Regions from separate parts of the Homo sapiens genome. Here region 1 is linked to region 2. Evidence: fine-mapped expression QTL. A gene starts in region 2. The other region holds a variant in brackets. All regions are shown on one strand. Distances are from middle to middle.

Evidence for each region. PIP is the estimated chance that this variant, and not a neighbour inherited with it, causes the effect.
Region 1: its variant is fine-mapped to the expression of GARS1-DT in kidney cortex (GTEx, PIP 0.99).

Annotation. Positions count from the first base shown.
Region 1 is chr7:30,593,808-30,596,724 of GRCh38, forward strand. GARS1 (glycyl-tRNA synthetase 1) reads left to right here and starts at 1,071. Exons shown (of 17, transcript NM_002047.4): 1 at 1,071-1,336. The coding sequence starts at 1,115. RefSeq lists enhancers at 526-1,139, 770-1,119, 1,140-1,753, 1,754-2,367 and a silencer at 2,263-2,362. The variant C/G (reference allele first, on the strand shown) is at 1,238.
Region 2 is chr7:30,576,134-30,579,050 of GRCh38, forward strand. It overlaps GARS1-DT (GARS1 divergent transcript), which reads right to left and starts at 1,646. Exons shown (of 7, transcript NR_038889.1): 1 at 1,516-1,646; 2 at 431-577.

The DNA.
Region 1 (2,917 bases), 18 kb after region 2:
CATTAGGAAAGGAGACTTCATTATACTGAGCCCGTCTACTCCTGCACACTCCTGGGGTGGGATTGTGGGTCACAGGGAGACGTACGTGCATACTGCCGAAGAGCTCCCAAGTGGCTGGCTGCACCAGTTAACACTCCCCTGAGCAGTGTAGGGGAGTCTCAGAGGGTCACTTGGCATTTTCCATCATTTTCATTTTAGCCATTTTTGCAGGTGTGCGCAATGCTGTTTTTATAACCAACACATCATTTTTCTCTTCCTTTCCTGGAGGGGGAACCCAGCTTTTCTAGGCCCTCCACCCTTTGGGCAGGAGGAACTGGGTGTGTGGGGCGGGGGGAAGCCATCTCTGGGTGGTTGGTCAGCTGGGGCCTAACCACAGGAGGCAGATAGACTGAGGCTATGCCAAGCAGAAAGACTTATCAGGCACCTCTTGCCTTTCCTCATCTCTGCCGGTTCAAATCCTGCTCGCCCCGCAAGGGCAGATTGGAATTTACCTTCTCCAGAAAGCCTGGGGTGACTCTATCCCCTCACTCCTCCTCCCCCGTTCGCCAGCTTTTGTCTTGACATCGGCGGACCAAGAATGTGTGACTCTGGGCAAATCATTAACCTCTCTGGGCCTATTTCCTTATCTGGGGAACATCTGCACTTGAGCAACAGAAGTCTAAGATCCCTATCTGATTTGATGTTTTGCGACCCTTTTAAGGCGCAGGGCGCGAAAGAACAGAAACAGAAGTGTCCGTTCAAGTAGGTCGGCCGGGGTGTCACTCGTATAAAAACCTATGCTTTGAAGGTTCTCGTGTGTCTCGGCCTGCAGGTCTCGCTCAGAGCTGTGTCCCTGAACATCCACCCTGCTGGGGTGGCTTGACGCACTTCTGTGCAAATCTGTTCGCTCGCAACCCTACCTACCTCTCTCCCGAACCGGAGAAAACCTTCGGCGGGGTCCTTCCGGGTTTTGTGTCGAATCTGCGGCGGCGACCCGGCGCCGCGTCACGCGGTGGTGAATGTGCGGCAGCACGCGCGCCGCGTCGTTTACGCGGCGATTTCATCATGCTCCGAGCCGGGCGGCGCGCGCCGCTTCCGTCGCCACCCTCTCTGGACAGCCCAGGGCCGCAGGCTCATGCCCTCTCCGCGTCCAGTGCTGCTTAGAGGTGCTCGCGCCGCTCTGCTGCTGCTGCTGCCGCCCCGGCTCTTAGCCCGACCCTCGCTCCTGCTCCGCCGGTCCCTCAGCGCGGCCTCCTGC[C/G]CCCCGATCTCCTTGCCCGCCGCCGCCTCCCGGAGCAGCATGGACGGCGCGGGGGCTGAGGAGGTGCTGGCACCTCTGAGGCTAGCAGTGCGCCAGCAGGTACCGGTGTTTTGCGCTCTCCGCTAAGCCTCCGGCTCTCCTCCCAGGGCCTTCTTCTGGTCATCCTTCCCTCCTCCCCGGGGAACTGTCCTCCTCTTCGGTTACCCCTTTCTTTCCCTTCATCCTCTGGCGTCTTCTTCGCCTCCCCCACTTTGGTCCCAAGTCCCCCGTGCGTCAGCCACCTCCTCTCCCGCGGACCTCCGTCCTCCTCTCTTTTTGGATGACTCCCTGGAACCCCTCCGACTTCCTGCGTCCCTCTCCGGCTCCGTTCTCCCTTCCCCATTCTGTCACAGCCCGCGTCTCCTCTATTTCCAGTGGGGCTGGGATCTGTGACCCTTTGGTTGTCCTCGCCTCCTAACTGAATAACCTTAACTTCAGTTTTCCAGGCTCTGCTGTACTCTTTGTGCACCCTGGGTGGAAAGCCTCCTAATTCTTTCAGTGGTCAATGATGAGCCGAAAAACTGCCGGTTCTTTCGTCTTACGGCCAGGCCCTTTAATCTTTAGGATGCTTTGATAGTGTTTCCCCCTTAACATCTTCCTTCATTCAGTGCTTAGTTTAGCGGAATGATTGGCTGAGAAAATAGAATTGAAATGTGGATGTGGGGAGGTGTCGAACTTTTCTATTAATGCTGTGAACTCATCATCCTTTGCTCTTGTCATCTTTTCTGGCTTCTGAAAAGGCCGTTTGGAACCAGTGAGCCCTCAGATCGTAAACCTGGGAAACTAAGTGTTGCGGAGTGAAGTCAGCCATCCTTAGTATGGAATATTTTGACATTTGATTTTCCCGAAGGTGAGGGAAGGTTTCATGGGCTGAAGGACTTGGTGATTTAATATAGACCTCCTTTTCCTAGGGCACTGCCATAGAGTTTAGAATTTAGAGATATCAAGGAAAAGATTATTTCAGATGATTCCCATATGCAATTAGGGAGAGCCAGAGCTTGCAGTAGGACCCCGGAGATCATGACTTAGTAGTAAACACCAAACGGGTTTCTCCTGCATGGGCGCCTGATGCAATAATTTGCCTTAGCTACAGAGGGTGGAACCCTATCTCGGAAATAATTCATTGGGGCATAGCTGCCGCAAATTCAGCCACTTTGCCATCTGTCCTCTTCGCTGGTTTGAGCCTGACCGATTTTAATAAATAGCCTTTCATTTTGAAATATCACCACGGGCTTAACTTTTTTCTTCATGATTGGTGTCAGAACACCGATTGCATATTCTGTCTCCCTCCACCCACCTTCCACTCCACAAATAAAATTAGGTGTGGTTCCTTTGTCTTTTCTTAACTTGCCATTTTAAAAAATATCCTTCCCTTTAGAAGGAAGCATACAACTAATTTGGAGAAAAAAAAAAACCACCACACCCAAACCCCTCCCTCTGCCACGTTAGCCTGGAACTGCAGTGAAAATCATCCATCGGTAGTTAAGACAGGATCTAGTTAACTAAAGTAAACTTTGATCGCGGCAGCTTTCCGATGCTACTAACTACTGTCTTGTGTATTGTTTATGTTGTCTTGATTATTGTTTTGTACTTTAAGATATTTTCCGAATATACGAGTTAGTTGATTTAAGTTAGTTTGGA
Region 2 (2,917 bases):
TTGGACTTTCTGAGTTTTCCTAAACATCTTTCTTTTTAAACAACCAGTCATTTTACGTTAGGACAAGAATTTATCGTACAAGATCTTTTCTCCTACAAAGCCACCATCTCTACAATCTTCCCTCACAAAAACATATCTTCATATATATAACTTTCTTCACATCTCTCCCCTACTTACTGGTTCCTTACTACCTTGTTTCATAAATAACTCTTTTTTTTAAAGTCCATAATTTGAATTAACTTTCAGATAACCTCCAAACTACACAAAATAATTCTTTCTCACCAATAACACATTTTTTGGCATATTTTGTATACAGAATTATATATTAACTATAATTCATATCCTTATGTATTAGTCTGTTTTCATGCTGCTGATAAAGACATACTTAAGACTGGGCAATTTACAAAAGAAAGAGGTTTATTGGACTTACATTTCCACATGCTGGGAAGGCCTCACAATCATGGTGGAAGGCAAGGAAGAGCAAATCACATCTTATGTGGATGGCAGCAGGCAAAAGGAGAGCTTGTGCAGGGCAACTCCCATTTTCAAAACCATCAGATCTCATGAGACCCATTCGCTATCATGAGAACAGCATAATTCAATCATCTCTCACCCACTGGATCCCTCCCCACAACACACGGTAATTATGGGAGTTATAAGAAGAGATTTGGGTGGGGATGCAAAGCCAAACCATATCATCTTAGTAACCTTAAATTTTAGTGAAACCTTAGGAAGCAAAAAATCCTAAACTATCAGATATTAGCATTTTATAGATGAGAATAATTCCACAATTTTTGGAAACATATTCCTCCCTATCATAACCCTTTCTTAATTGGAAATGACTGAGATATCCAATGGGCATCAAAAATACTTTTAAGATTTTAAATTACACAAAATTTACCTAATCATTCATCCCATTTACATGTACTTAAGTCTTTCATTTTTAACAGTTTATCTAGATTACTTCTGAAAACTGAGATATTAGACACCATCATTTAAAGTTAGTTATTTATTTGTTAACCATTTTTAATAGCCAATGAACATTATGTGTTCACCTAAATAAGAACCTCACAGTTAAATACATAGGTGTTTTTGCCAATAACCCAGAAGATTTAGCTAACAATATTAAATTAGTCTCATTTGTCAAAGAAGCCACATAAACTAAGGCCATTTTGTTTTGGCTGGGTTAATAGCTTTATAATCTTCTATGCCAAATGCTGACACTTCAACATTTCTAGCAAAGACAAATATAAAACCCAGACAAAAATGTATGCTGACAATTCTGAAGATATTTCTATTTTCATTTTACCAATAATTTTAAAGCCAGCTATTTAATGAAGATTTACTTAAGTCACATGAACTTGAAAATTGCTTGGACTTATTTATTTAATTTATGAGTGCTTTTTTATTTATAAGCTGATTTGGTTGACACAACATATAACAATAAGTGTACATACAAATAAACACATCTAGACATGTATACACACACACAAACGAAGATCCAATAGCTTTTACCTTGGAACTCTAGCCATGAGATATCAATACAAGCTCACAGGTTTTACATGGTTACACTTTGTTTGCTCCAATAGGTAATCCAGTGAAGGCTGTGAACCAAACATTTTTAAAGCAGTTCCGGTGGCAGTTTGATTTTTAAAGGCCAAACCTCCTCAGACTCCAAAGACACTGGAGCCAAATAGCACCAAAGGAGAGCACCATATGCTGACTAGGCCTGACCCTTCTTAGGACAGCAGCACCAAAGCCTGGATACATGCAACGTCATCCTGCTTTCCCATTCAACAGCAAACTCCAGATTCCAAACAATACTGGGGCCAAGTATTATTGCAAAAGAATATCAAATGTTTCCTCCTTAGATTATCAGGGTCAAATTCATTTCAATGGTTGAGGATGCAGCCAAGTGGGAAGTCAGGTGGAATAAATGGAGTGTTTCCTGTAGTGGTCTGCAAGAGAGAGACAATTCTAAGGAGGCCTTAGTACTAGACCTGAGAACCTTTGCCTAGGGCATCCCCTTTGGAGAGGCTGAGGTCTGGAGTTGGATCCCCTAGGCATCCCCCTTTGAGGTCCAGTCTAAAAGTGTCAGACATCTCTGACCTTAGGTGGGCACCAGTGTTGCTTTGTATGTTTTCCCTCCAGAGGCAATGGCCTAATATGAGCTTTTCTCTTGTCCCTGGATGAAGGTCTCAGCTTCTAGCTTCCTACCAATTTAGATAGGCCATATCTTCCTGCATTCCTTGCAAGACTAAGGAGGTTCCCGAACACTGCAGAGTTAACGGTACCAAGGCTAGTGGGATATTCCCCATGAAGAAATGGTGCAGAGGTTATATAAAAGATTGGGTTTATATTGGGTATATAAAAGATATATAGAATTTCTACGGGGTTCAGGGCAAGCAAACTGATGCCAAAGCAATGACCACCAAGCTCCCTTAAGTGGAGGTCCAAGATGTAGAATGTGTTCTAAAGCTTGTGGGTCCCAAAGGTCCTCAGCCAGTCAATAGATTCAGTAGGAGAAGGGAGGTCAAAATATCTAAGAGATATTATCTTTTGTCCTTACAGGCCAACTTTATGGGAGAATTTAGCTTAAGAAAGAGGGTTTAAGTCGCCTGAAATGTGTGTGAGTTCACCCTGGACGAGCTTCTGCTGCCAATTGCATCACAGGTAGGGATCAGGGACTATAACTCAAAAAGATACAAAAGAGTCCTTCCGCCTTCTGGGCAGGAGAGCTATCCCAGGTTCACTCCTTGGCCTTCAGGTAACAGTAGAGAGTGGTCCCGGCCAGTTTCCCTCAATTACCAAGAAGCTACTAGGAAACGGCCACTGAAAGACTGAAAAAAGGAAAAGGACTCAGGTCCCTCACCTGAATTGGGCAGTGGTGGTCAGGCACTTTCACACAGAAACCTTT